Linked DNA regions of Homo sapiens. The protein of the gene in region 1 purifies or fractionates together with the protein of each later gene. This does not show direct contact. Each region holds a gene or a part of one and is shown on either strand. Other genes may lie near its edges. The genes, in order: FRYL, IQGAP3 and MAML1.

Region 1 (3,822 bases):
CAGTAAAATCAGAATAGGCTAAGCATAGGGATTTAGTTATAGGGACTTAATAGGGAGGATGTGTGTATCTGTGAAGGCCATATAAATGCAACCCAGATAGTTCATCGTCTCTTGCCCCCACTAGTGATACCTAAACCACCTTCCTGCAACGTTCCCTTTTGTTTCCTGCTCTTTCATATTTTCGGGAATCCTCATGAAATTTTTCACCTGTATTTGGGGAAAAGTCCTATGAACTACCAACTACTGATGTTTACTTACCCTTCTCTGTCATCATCAAGCCCCTTTTCTAGGGTACTGCTGAGCACTGACACTTCCTTGGCACCATTAGATTATACTGGGGTATCACTGCAAATGTACTAAAGCCCCCGGGGTACACAGTCTTCAAGGTTCATCGGCAAAGAGGGAGAGAACACATAACCATTTTCCCCTAACATTCTTAGATGGGTACCGAAGCTGTACCTGTACTCAATTTTAGTGGAAATAAACCTTTTAGTTCTTACAGCTCCAGTGGGAAACTGGGGAAACTCTAAAGCAGACCCCGCACTAGGCTTCCCCATAATTTCTTCTCTTTTCAATGCGTGAGGTTCTGCTCCATGGTCAAGCTTCTGGTATCAGATTCCCTCTTTCCCTTAGACAGACTCGTTTTCTCCTGAGAGGCATCTCAGTTGTTCAAGTGACCTGGGGTGTTTTTCCTACAGTTCTAGCAAGGGGGAACGAAGTCCTACACTTTGAGGATGGCATAAGGGTACCATCTACTTAATTTTTTCAAAAAAGTAACAGGTCTCGTGGAAACGCGGGAACGTCACAGAGGACGTGACTTAAACGGAACTTGTAATGGAAATGATTTTCTAAATGAACAATTGCGAGACAAGCAAGGAAACCTCCAGGTTTGCAGATAACTTGATTAAAGCTCTTCCGGGTGGCAAAATGCCAGTGCAATCAATGGTATGAGTAGGGCGGACAGTGGATGAAACTTGTTGAGTAAATCTCAGGAGGAATTAGCACTGGACTTTCAGGTATTCTAACTCAATTCTAACCATTCCATTCTCTGGATCATTGGATAAGGTTCCGCAGGATCCGGGCGCCAGCTCTGGATACATTACTGATCGGGAGAAAATTTTGAATTTTTCTCTTGTCCCTTTCCAGCTTTCCTCAATATAGGATATGAGTTTGTCCTCGACCCCTAACAACATTTAAAGGTAAAGTCGCTCCTAGAAGGCAAAGCGGAGAGGACTTTGCGGCTGTGTTTCTCAAGCCCGTAAAGAGAGAGTAATAATGGTAGGGAGCGTGCAGACTAGCTCTTTCCTTGCCCAATCAAGTGTACAGGAAGATGTCCTTTCACCAATAAAAATAAAGTTCGCTTTCCGGAGGCGGGAGGGTGAGCCTTGACTGCCAGGGCTCCAAAGCAACGTTAGAGGCGAGGGCAGAGAATGATTAGAGGGAAGACCAACCCGGGAAAAGGGGCGGGGAGAAGGTAGGAGCAACTTTGAGCGGCGGCTGGCCAGGCCAGTGGAGGGCGAGGACTGCTGTTCCTGTTGTAGTGTTTCTCGCCAATCAGGAAGGCCAGGGGGCGGGCGGGGTAGGGAAGGGGTGGGAAGACCTCGCAGCACAGCCGGGCGCCCGTCGGGCTCTGGGAGAGAGCGAGAGAGAAATCCGGTTAAAATCAGAGTCGGAGGGAGGTTTAACCACAGATCGGTTCCGATCGGATTATTCCTTAAAGGGGACGCGCCATTGTCAAGAGAACGGAGCCAGGGGCCCGAGGGCGGGGACCGGCGGCGCTGGAGGAGCGAGGCAGCTGTACTAGGACTGGGAACGGGTAGGTGTTGACTGGGGAAAGGCGCTTCATTTTACTTTCTCTTCCAGCCCCGGGGCAGGCGCCGGGATGCCCGCCGCCGGCAGCCCAGCCTGGGCGGGAGACGAGGTCGTCGGCCCTCGCCAGCTGTCCTTCCTGGTGGGCGCCGAGGGAAGGCGGTCCAGGATGGCTGGCAAGCGGCGCGGCGCGGCCCGGGCCGGCGCTCGTAACGGACACCAAACCGCGGCGCAACCCCAGCCTCAACCGAAAGCCCGCCCGAGCTCCGGCGGTTCCGCCGGCAGCGCCGCGCGCCCGTCTCTCCCGCACGTCCCCTTCCCCTCCAGTGCCTGGCTCTTCTCGCGCGCGCCCGGGTACCCCTCGCGCGCCGCCTTCTCGCGCGTCCTGCTCTGGTCGCGCGCCGCCTCGCCACCGACTCGCGGGAGCCGCCCCGCGGGAAGGAAGGCGGTGGCAGAGGTGGAGGAAGACCGGCGACCACGGCTCCGCCGCCTCGGCTGGGAAGGGAGGGCTGAGGAGCAAACTTAGCGCGGCGGCTGGCGGGCCCCGGCGGGCAGGGCTGGCGGGGACCGGCGGAGCGCGCCAGCCCAGCCGGGCATTGTCCGCCTTTTCCCTTGCTCTGGTCTCTCCGCCCACTGCTCGCGGTCCTGGGGAGGGGTGCGGGCGCTGTGCCCGCGCAGCCCCGGGCCGTTGGCGTACCCCGGGACCCGGAGTCTTCCGGAGCCGGAGCCAGCCCTGCGGACACCGCGGCCACCGCCCGCGAGCTGACTCGGCCTGTAGATTGCCTGCTGCTCTCAGCCTCGGCACCGGGCAGGGTGCCTGGGCGCTGAGCTCTTCTTTGCAACTTTTATTTGCCGTTTGATGGAAGTTGTTGCTTCCGGGCGGCAGGTTCTTTGGGCACAGCCTGGTTTCCTGCGTTCTGGAGAGGCTGGTTTCTAGGGCGAAATGATTTATTGCTGCCGGTCTTTCCTGCCATCCTAGTTTAGTTCCTCGCCACCTAAAATCGCATTTTTGTGGATTTGCAATGATATGGGAGCATTAATCTTTCCTAGGCCAAGATTTGAAAAGAAAAAAAAGGGGGTGGGGGTTAGGGTGTGTGCTGGTGAGGAGCAAGAGTTCTTAGTAGAGCTGAGTTTGCCCTTACCTTTGAACTGCGGAAAATATTACTTCGATTCACTGGCTGGGGTTCTTTTGGAAGGGTAGGGGAAAAAAGACACAGCAAGACAGGTTGCCAGGGTCTGTCGGATTGGGGGGGAAAAAGGGTTTTGATGGAAGTAAAGTTGGTTTTATAAAATGCTGTGCTGCCTAGGAGATATCGTCTGTAAAGTTGATTCTGCTACTGAATTTACAGCCATTATAATTAGTACCAACAGCTTTTACTATTGATAAAAACTAGTATAAGACGTCTTTTCATCTTGAGCATTATCACTCTGCTTAATCTGTCAATACTTGCCGAGGAAATCAGAGATAGCACATTCCTTGTTAGAGGCCTTAGTGAAGAATGTTTTCATAAGCATTCATTTTTGACAGTTTCTTCTTGTGCAATACTTTATGTAGAGTACTTGCATGTGCAAGTTACAACCGTATAAACAAAGTAGCAGTGGGTGTGTTATTCTCTGGTCTTTTTTCTGCTACTCATTATCAAAAATAGCATTCCATCGTGTCTTGTCTTCCACTCTGAATTATTTTGTAAAATTAGTTCTCTAAAAGAGGGAATTCTGTTGGAACATGTGACCCAGTTTTTTTTTTTTTTATTAAAGCAGTCCAACTTTTTAAAGCGTTCATCGATTAATTTATTGTCTAGTAACTTCGGAGTGGTGTGGAACATTGTAAATTCACAGGCTCAGCAGTAACAATAGAGAAACTACTTGGGAAATTGGAAGCCAATATCAGATAATGTTTGAAATAAAAATCTATTCTTCTCACAGAATTTAGGAAATAAAGACACACAAAAACAAATTCTTTGGGTTCAAGTGATCCTCCCACCCCAGGCTCCGTAGTAGCCGGGACTACAG
Region 2 (3,500 bases), on another chromosome or scaffold:
TCTGGGCAGAGCCAGCACCTACGGGTCCTGAATGACTATCTGGAGGAAACACACCTCAAGTTCAGGTCTTGGGTCCCTTTCCTCTCTGTCCCCTTTCTTCCCTCTTCTCACCTTTGACATCCCACTTGTCCCCTCCAGAATCCATGAGGACAAGAGGCATAAATAGAAGGGATGAGCATAATGAGCGGGGTGGAGGATAGGTTGTTGGAAGGACTCCCCAGTGGAGAGAAAAGGAGACTATTAAGAGAGATTGTCTTGAGGGGTCACTGGGACAGAGGTAGGGCAGGACAGAGGGCAGAAGCTGAGACTGGAGAGTCCAAATTGGCCTGAGCAATCACTGGAGAAGGCTGGGGAAATGATGGGGACAGAAGATGTGTGGGGTGCTGGCCCTCCCCGCTCTCTCACATGCCCGCCCTCTGGACAGGAAGTTCATCCATAGAGCCTGCCAGGTGCCAGAGCCAGAGGAGCGTTTTGCAGTGGACGAGTACTCAGACATGGTGGCTGTGGCCAAACCCATGGTGTACATCACCGTGGGGGAGCTGGTCAACACGCACAGGGTGAGGGGCTGAGATCTGGAGGGTGTTGGCTGGGTGGGCAAGGGTTTGGTAGCCTGTGATGGGGTAGTGGGCTGGCCCCAGAGGGAAGACCTGGCTCAGACCCTGCATCTCCTTTTCTTTCTCCGTCCTGCAGCTGTTGCTGGAGCACCAGGACTGCATTGCCCCTGATCACCAAGACCCCCTGCATGAGCTCCTGGAGGATCTTGGGGAGCTGCCCACCATCCCTGACCTTATTGGTACGTGCCCTCCTTAGCAGCTGAGGCCAGCTAGGGGACCTGCATGGAGGGAGGGACAGGCAGGCAGGCAGGGCATGTGAGCGTGCCCATGCAGCCTAGGTCTTGTGCCAGGCGGCTAGTTCCATACTCTCCCTCTGGTCCTGACATGGGCACAGGGACACAGATTGATGTGGAGAAGGTAGACAGACAGTAGAGGGACCCACGATCATCATGGAAAACGGTCAATGAAATGATCTGAAAGAGGCACAGGGATCAGGGCCTCATTAGGTTTCTCTGAGAAGGAGGGGTTTCCGGGCCATGGAATAGGAGGAAGCCAACTTACTGGGAGGAAGGACAGAATGAAGATGGTGATTGGAGAGAACCAGGAGCTGCAGGCTCAGGGAGGCACAGCTCCTCTACCCTCAGGGCACCCAGGGCTGAGGGTGTGGGGGTGGCACAGCCCCAGTAACACAAGGGTATGCTCTGTGGGTAACAGCCCTTCCATCGGTGCTAAGGGTTGGGGACACAGGGTAGTTCTGCAGGCCAGTGTGGGAAAACTTCCTGGAAGAGGGGCATGTGGAGCAGCTGATTTAATGTGACCCCATCGGTGCATGTGTGTGTGTGTATGTGTGTGTGCGCATGTGTGTGTGTATGCCTGTCTCCCTCTCATTCCTCACCACACCTCAGGTGAGAGCATCGCTGCAGATGGGCACACGGACCTGAGCAAGCTAGAAGTGTCCCTGACGCTGACCAACAAGTTTGAAGGACTAGAGGCAGATGCTGATGACTCCAACACCCGTAGCCTGCTTCTGAGGTGGGTGATGCCAGCCTCTGCCCCTGCATACCTGAGCTCCCCAGCCCTGAGGCCAGTAAAATGGCCTTATTCTGAGGCGCCCATTCCACCTTCTTCCTGGGCTCCCTTATCCTTCAGGAAGTTCTCCCTGAAGCCTACCTTTATTCCCCTCGCTGCAGCCTTGGCTCTTTTCCATCTGGTATCCTCAGCTTTTTGCTCTGTGTTGTACTGAAAGTAAAGGAATGGTGAAGATATTGGCAACAGCAGGTGTTTGCATATCGTGCTGTTTACCAAATGCTTTTTTCTTTTTTTTCAAGTAGAGACAGAGTCTCGCCATGTTGCCCAAGCTGGCCTCAAACTCCTGGCCTCAAAGCCATCCACCTGGCTCAGCCTCCCAAAGTGCTAGGATTACAGGATTGACCCACTGCGCCTGGCCCAAATGCTTTTTTAATAAGTTATCGTTTATTCTTAGAAACAAGCTATGAGGTAGATGGTGGCTTCCCCTCTTCATAGTTGAGGAAAGACTCAGTAGTTATGTGATTTATCCAAAGTTCCACAGCCAGTGGGTTGTAGAGCTCATGTTCTAATTCCACTTTTTTTTTTTTTTTTTTTTTGAGATGGAGTCTCATTCTGTCATCCAGGCTGGAGTGCAGTGACACGAACTCAGTTCACTGCAACCTCCGCCTTCTGGGTTCAAGCGATTCTCCTGCCTCAGCCTCCTGAGTAGCTGGGACTACAGGTGCTCGCCATCATGTCCGGCCAATTTTTGTATTTTTAGTAGAGATGGGGTTTCACCATGTTGGCCAGCCTGATTTTGAACTCCTGACCTCAAGTGATCTGCCTGCCTTGGCCTCCCAAAGTGCTGGGATTACAGGCGTGAGCCACTGCGCCCAGCCTAATTCCGCATTCTTGTTGAGTGTGATGGTCAGGAGATGGGCATGGAGCTCTTCTTCCCCAGTTCTACAAAAGTGAGGGAGGACTCCCAGTAGGGGTGAGCTGGTCATCTGGGCAGAAGAGGAGCCAAAGTGCCAGCTCAAGCTCCTGCCAACAAGGCAACCCCTTGCACCCACTCATTCACTCAATAAACAAGTGAGCTGGCCAGGTGCGGTGGCTCATGTCTGTAATCTCAGCACTTTGGGAGGCCGAGGCAGGTGGATCACCTGAGGTCAGGAGTTCGAGACCAGCCTGGCCAACATGGTGAAACCCCATCTCTACTGAAAATACACAAATTAGCTGGGTGTGGTGGCAGGCACCTGTAATCCCAGCTACTTGAGAGGCTGAGGCAGGAGAATCACTTGAACCTGGGAGGCAGAGGTTGCAGTGAGCCGAGATCATGCCATTGCACTCCAGCCTGGGTGACAGGAGTGAAACTCTATCTCAAAAAAAAAAAAAAAAAACAAGTGAGCTGAGTATCATCTTTGTCCTGCCATCAAAGGGCTGAGAGCAGGATCGGGCTAGGGCTGAACACAGAGCACCACCAAGAGGGTGGTGGGTGTCAGATGCATTGAGAGCTAAGGAGAAGGGATGGCTGGGTGGGAAGGACATGTGTGCTCAGCTGAAGGACTCAAAGGCAGATAGTTTGTTGGGAAGGTATTCCAGGCAACGACATCCCCTATCCCTCGCTCTCTCTCCTTATATCCTAGCAGCCATGCTATAGAGCACGGTCCACTTACTCTCAGACCTCTGGCCAGTCCCATGTCCAGGCCCTTCCCCTGCCCCTTACCTCTCCTCTGTCACTGTCCTCCTTGTGCAGCACCAAGCAGCTGTTGGCCGATATCATACAGTTCCATCCTGGGGACACCCTCAAGGAGATCCTGTCCCTCTCGGCTTCCAGAGAGCAAGTGAGTAGCCGGGCTGGCCCACAGGTTCTGTCTCATTCATCCCCCACCTCATCCCACCTGCACCGCTGCTGTTTCCCTCCTCTGAACCTCACCC
Region 3 (3,722 bases), on another chromosome or scaffold:
ACAGGTGTGAGCCACCATACCCAGCTATATTTTTATTTTTATTTTTCTATTCTATTCTATTCCGTTCCGTTCCGTTCTATTCTATTCTATTTGAGAGATGGAGTCTTGTTATATTGCTAAGCCTGGTCTAAAACTCCTGAGCTCAAGCTATCCTCCCACCACAGCTTCCCAAAAGTTCTGAGATTACAGGCATGAGCCACCATGCTGAGCTGCATATTATAATTTGTGTTAATTGTTGTACTGTTATTTTTTTACTTTTTTTTCCAAAAAATATTTTCTATCTACAGTTGGTTGAATCCGCAGATGCAGAATGCGCAGATACGGAGGGCTGATTGTACTCTGGCCCACAGCAGGTGCTCAAATATTTGCTGCATGAATTAATAAGGGAAAATAGTAAGGAGACTGAGAAAAAAAGTCAGAAAGCTGAAAAGGAAATCAGAAGAGAGGAGAAGCTAAGAAAAGGAAGAAGTCACGAAGAATGATGACTAAGATGCCAATGAGGCTGGGTGTGGTGGCTCACGCCTGTAGTCCCAGCTACTGAGGAGGCTGTGGTGGGAGGATCACTTGAGCCTGGGAGGTTGAGGCTGTAGTGAGCCATAATGGTGCCACTGCACTCCAGCCTAGGCAACACAGTGAGACCCTGTCTCCAAAAAAAAAAAAAAGATGCCAATAAATTTGGCAAGTCCATCCTTGGTGTCCTTTACGGAGGCAACTTCAGAGTAATAGAAGAGGTAGAAGGCATATTACCATAGGCTAATGAGTAAATGAGAAGTTCAAGTGGGAAGGGCAAAGGGAAAGAAGAATATGGAATACTATTTTGACAGTGAGAAAACACAGGACTTGTCAGTGTGGAGAATATTTGTTCATAATTTCAAGCTGAAGGGAAAGACTCAGTTGGGAAGGGAGATACTGAAGACAAAAAAGGAAAGAGGGTTCTAGACAAGGTCTCAGGCATTACAGGAAGAAATGAGATCCTAAAGCCACACTGATCATCTTTTTAAAAAAACTAATGCCCCACATGATTACAGTACAGTATCTGTTTTATATTCAGAAATATCTACTTCCTGGAAATAATTTGTTATTTCATAATTCTTACAAGAGTTTGGTCTACAAAATTAACAGCTTTCTTAACTCTTAAAAGGTACACATGGGGTGGTTTGGCAGCAGAGAGCTATGAGGTGTGCAGCATACTCTCAGGTGGTTCAGAGAATAAAAGTCTGAGAGAGAGAGAAAGAGGCAGAGAGTGGGAGAGAGAGAATGTGCAAATGATAACAAATGGGGCACAACAGTGACAACAGGTAAATCTAGGTAACCAGATGTTCTTTGTACCAAACTTAGAGCTTTTCTCTAAGTTTGACATTATTTACAAATAAAAGGTTAAAAAAGAGAGAAAGAAACTTTACACACCTAAAACTAAGTAAGAAAATCAACTTTCGGCCAGGCAAGGTGGCTCACACCCATCTCTACAAAAAACTTTAAAACCTAGCCGGGTGCGGTGGTGCACACCTGTAGTCCCAGCTACTCAGGAGGCTGAGGTGGGAGGACCCCTGGAGCCCAGCAGTTCAAGGCTGTAGTGCCCCACGATCGCGCCACTGGGTGATAGAGCCAGACCCTGTTTCAAGAAAAAAGGAAAAGAAATGAAAACCTAATAGACTCATTCCTTGAAAATTAGAATAGAGAAAAAGCCTGAAACAGTGTTTCTGATTCATCTCTAACAGACTAAGCAGATAGTGGCTAAGACTTCGCTGTGGTGGGATATCCTAAGAAAACAATAATCTGAAGTGAAGTAAACTCTAGCAGTAAATCTGATCCCTTCTCAGTCATACAAATGGGTTGCTGGTGAAGTAACTATGAAATGACTGCCAAACAGTATATAGTTCACTTGGAAAAAACTTAAGAACTTATAATATTCCTTAAGTAAGAAATATTAATGAGATCAAATACATGGAGTTGTCAAAAATAACAATGACTAAGAGGTACCTTCTTTCCATCTCTTTCTGCAAAGCTGTTTTCTCCAAGCCAAAATCGTACATACTCAAGGACTCTCTTCCCCCCTGAATTGAAGGAGCCACTGTTTTCTTAATGATACTTATCTTCTGTTCCGATGACCCCATTCCAAGGCCAAAGAGCTCAGCTAGACTAACTTGGAGTCCAAATGCAAAGCGTCCCTCTTCCTAGCAGAGACACAGAAAAGCACATCCACCGTAGAGTTTAAACTCAAGAAATCCATAAGTCAAGGTTTAATGTGATAAAAAGACATCACCTTAACATGGCACATCTGATTAAGCTCTGATATCAAAAGGAATGACTGACAAATTAGATTCAAATTCTAACACACTCAGAATTAATTTCTCTTCAAACAGCATGCCCAGTTTCCCCCACTGACTCAGGACTAAAAAAAATCATACAGGGTCTAAATTCTTAGAACAACTTTAAACAAAAATTGAATCATTACTAATATACCTTTTTTTTTTTTTTTTAATTTGAGACGGAGTCTCCCTCTGTTGCCCAGGCTGGAGTGCAGTGGTACGATCTCAGCTCACTGTAACCTCCGTCTCCCAGGTTCCAGCGATTCTCCTCCCTCAGCCTCCCGTGTAGCTGGGACCACAGGCGCACGCCACATGCCCAGCTAATTTTTGTATTTTTAGTAGAGACGGGGTTTCACCATGTTAGCCAGGCTGGTCTCGAACTCCTGACCTCAGGCGATCCACCCACCTCTGCCTCCCAAAGTGCTGGGATTACAGGAGTCAACCACTGCTCCCGGCCCCCCTAATATACTTTCTAGGGAGGATTCAAGGCAACTATTTGTGTATTAAACTATGATTTTTATGAGCTTTCATTATTTACTTCAATTGCAATGACCACGAACTACTCTTAAAAGTCCTTCCTTACACAGGCCAAGCGTGGCGGCTCATGCCTGTAATCCCAGCACTTTGGGAGGCCAGTGCGGGAGGATCACAAGGTCAGGAGATCGAGACCATCCTGGCCAACATGGTGAAACCCCGTCTCTACTAAAATACAAAAAATTAGGGGAGCGTGGTGGCACAAGCCTGTAGTCCCAGCTACTTGGGGGGCTGAGGCAGGGGAATTGCTTGAACCTGGGAGGCGGAGGTTGCAGTGAGCCAAGATGGCACCATTGCACTCCAGCCTGGCGACAAAGCGAAACTCCCTAAAAAAAAATAACAAAAGTCCCTCCTTACAAGAGTTGTTACTATGAGCCATGAAAGGTGGCTCATGAAGTTACATCAACTTGCTTTTTGAAGTTAGTGTATAGGAGGAGAGATTACTGAGTAAAGCACTACCAAGTTTCTATCAATAATTCAACAAACAGGCACTTAAGATGCACCTCAGATGTGTACTACCCAAGTGTGAGCCCTCCCTGCCTCCAAGAGCTGACAGTCTAGTTGAAAAGATGCGACCTAAAGTAACAAGTGACCATGTGCTAAAAATAAATAGCATAGGCCGGGCGCGGTGGCTCACGCCTGTAATCCCAGCACTTTGGGAGGCCGAGGTGGGTGGATCACGAGGTCAGGGGTTCGAGACCAGCCTGCCCAACAAGGAGAAACCCTGTCTCTACTAAAAATACCAAAATAAGCCAAGCGTGGTAGTGTGCGCCTGTAATCCCAGCTACTCAGGAAGCTGAGGCAGGAGAATCGCTTGAACCGGGGAGGCAGAGGTTGCAGTGAGCAGAAATCATGTCACTACACTCCAGCCTGGGTGAC

Evidence for each region.
Region 2: the proteins of FRYL (region 1) and IQGAP3 purify together in Homo sapiens (co-immunoprecipitation; one large-scale study listed by IntAct). This does not show direct contact.
Region 3: the proteins of FRYL (region 1) and MAML1 purify together in Homo sapiens (co-immunoprecipitation; one large-scale study listed by IntAct). This does not show direct contact.

Annotation. Positions count from the first base shown.
Region 1 is NC_000004.12:48,778,072-48,781,893, reverse strand, and holds the start of FRYL (protein furry homolog-like), read left to right. Parts: upstream 1-1,614; 5' UTR 1,615-1,816; intron 1,817-3,822. UniProt on the Homo sapiens protein: Plays a key role in maintaining the integrity of polarized cell extensions during morphogenesis, regulates the actin cytoskeleton and plays a key role in patterning sensory neuron dendritic fields by promoting avoidance between homologous dendrites as well as by limiting dendritic branching.
Region 2 is NC_000001.11:156,531,066-156,534,565, reverse strand, and holds part of IQGAP3 (ras GTPase-activating-like protein IQGAP3), read left to right. Parts: coding exon 1-65; intron 66-424; coding exon 425-557; intron 558-690; coding exon 691-793; intron 794-1,459; coding exon 1,460-1,586; intron 1,587-3,318; coding exon 3,319-3,406; intron 3,407-3,500.
Region 3 is NC_000005.10:179,735,724-179,739,445, reverse strand, and holds part of MAML1 (mastermind-like protein 1), read right to left. Parts: intron 1-3,722. UniProt on the Homo sapiens protein: Acts as a transcriptional coactivator for NOTCH proteins. Has been shown to amplify NOTCH-induced transcription of HES1. Enhances phosphorylation and proteolytic turnover of the NOTCH intracellular domain in the nucleus through interaction with CDK8.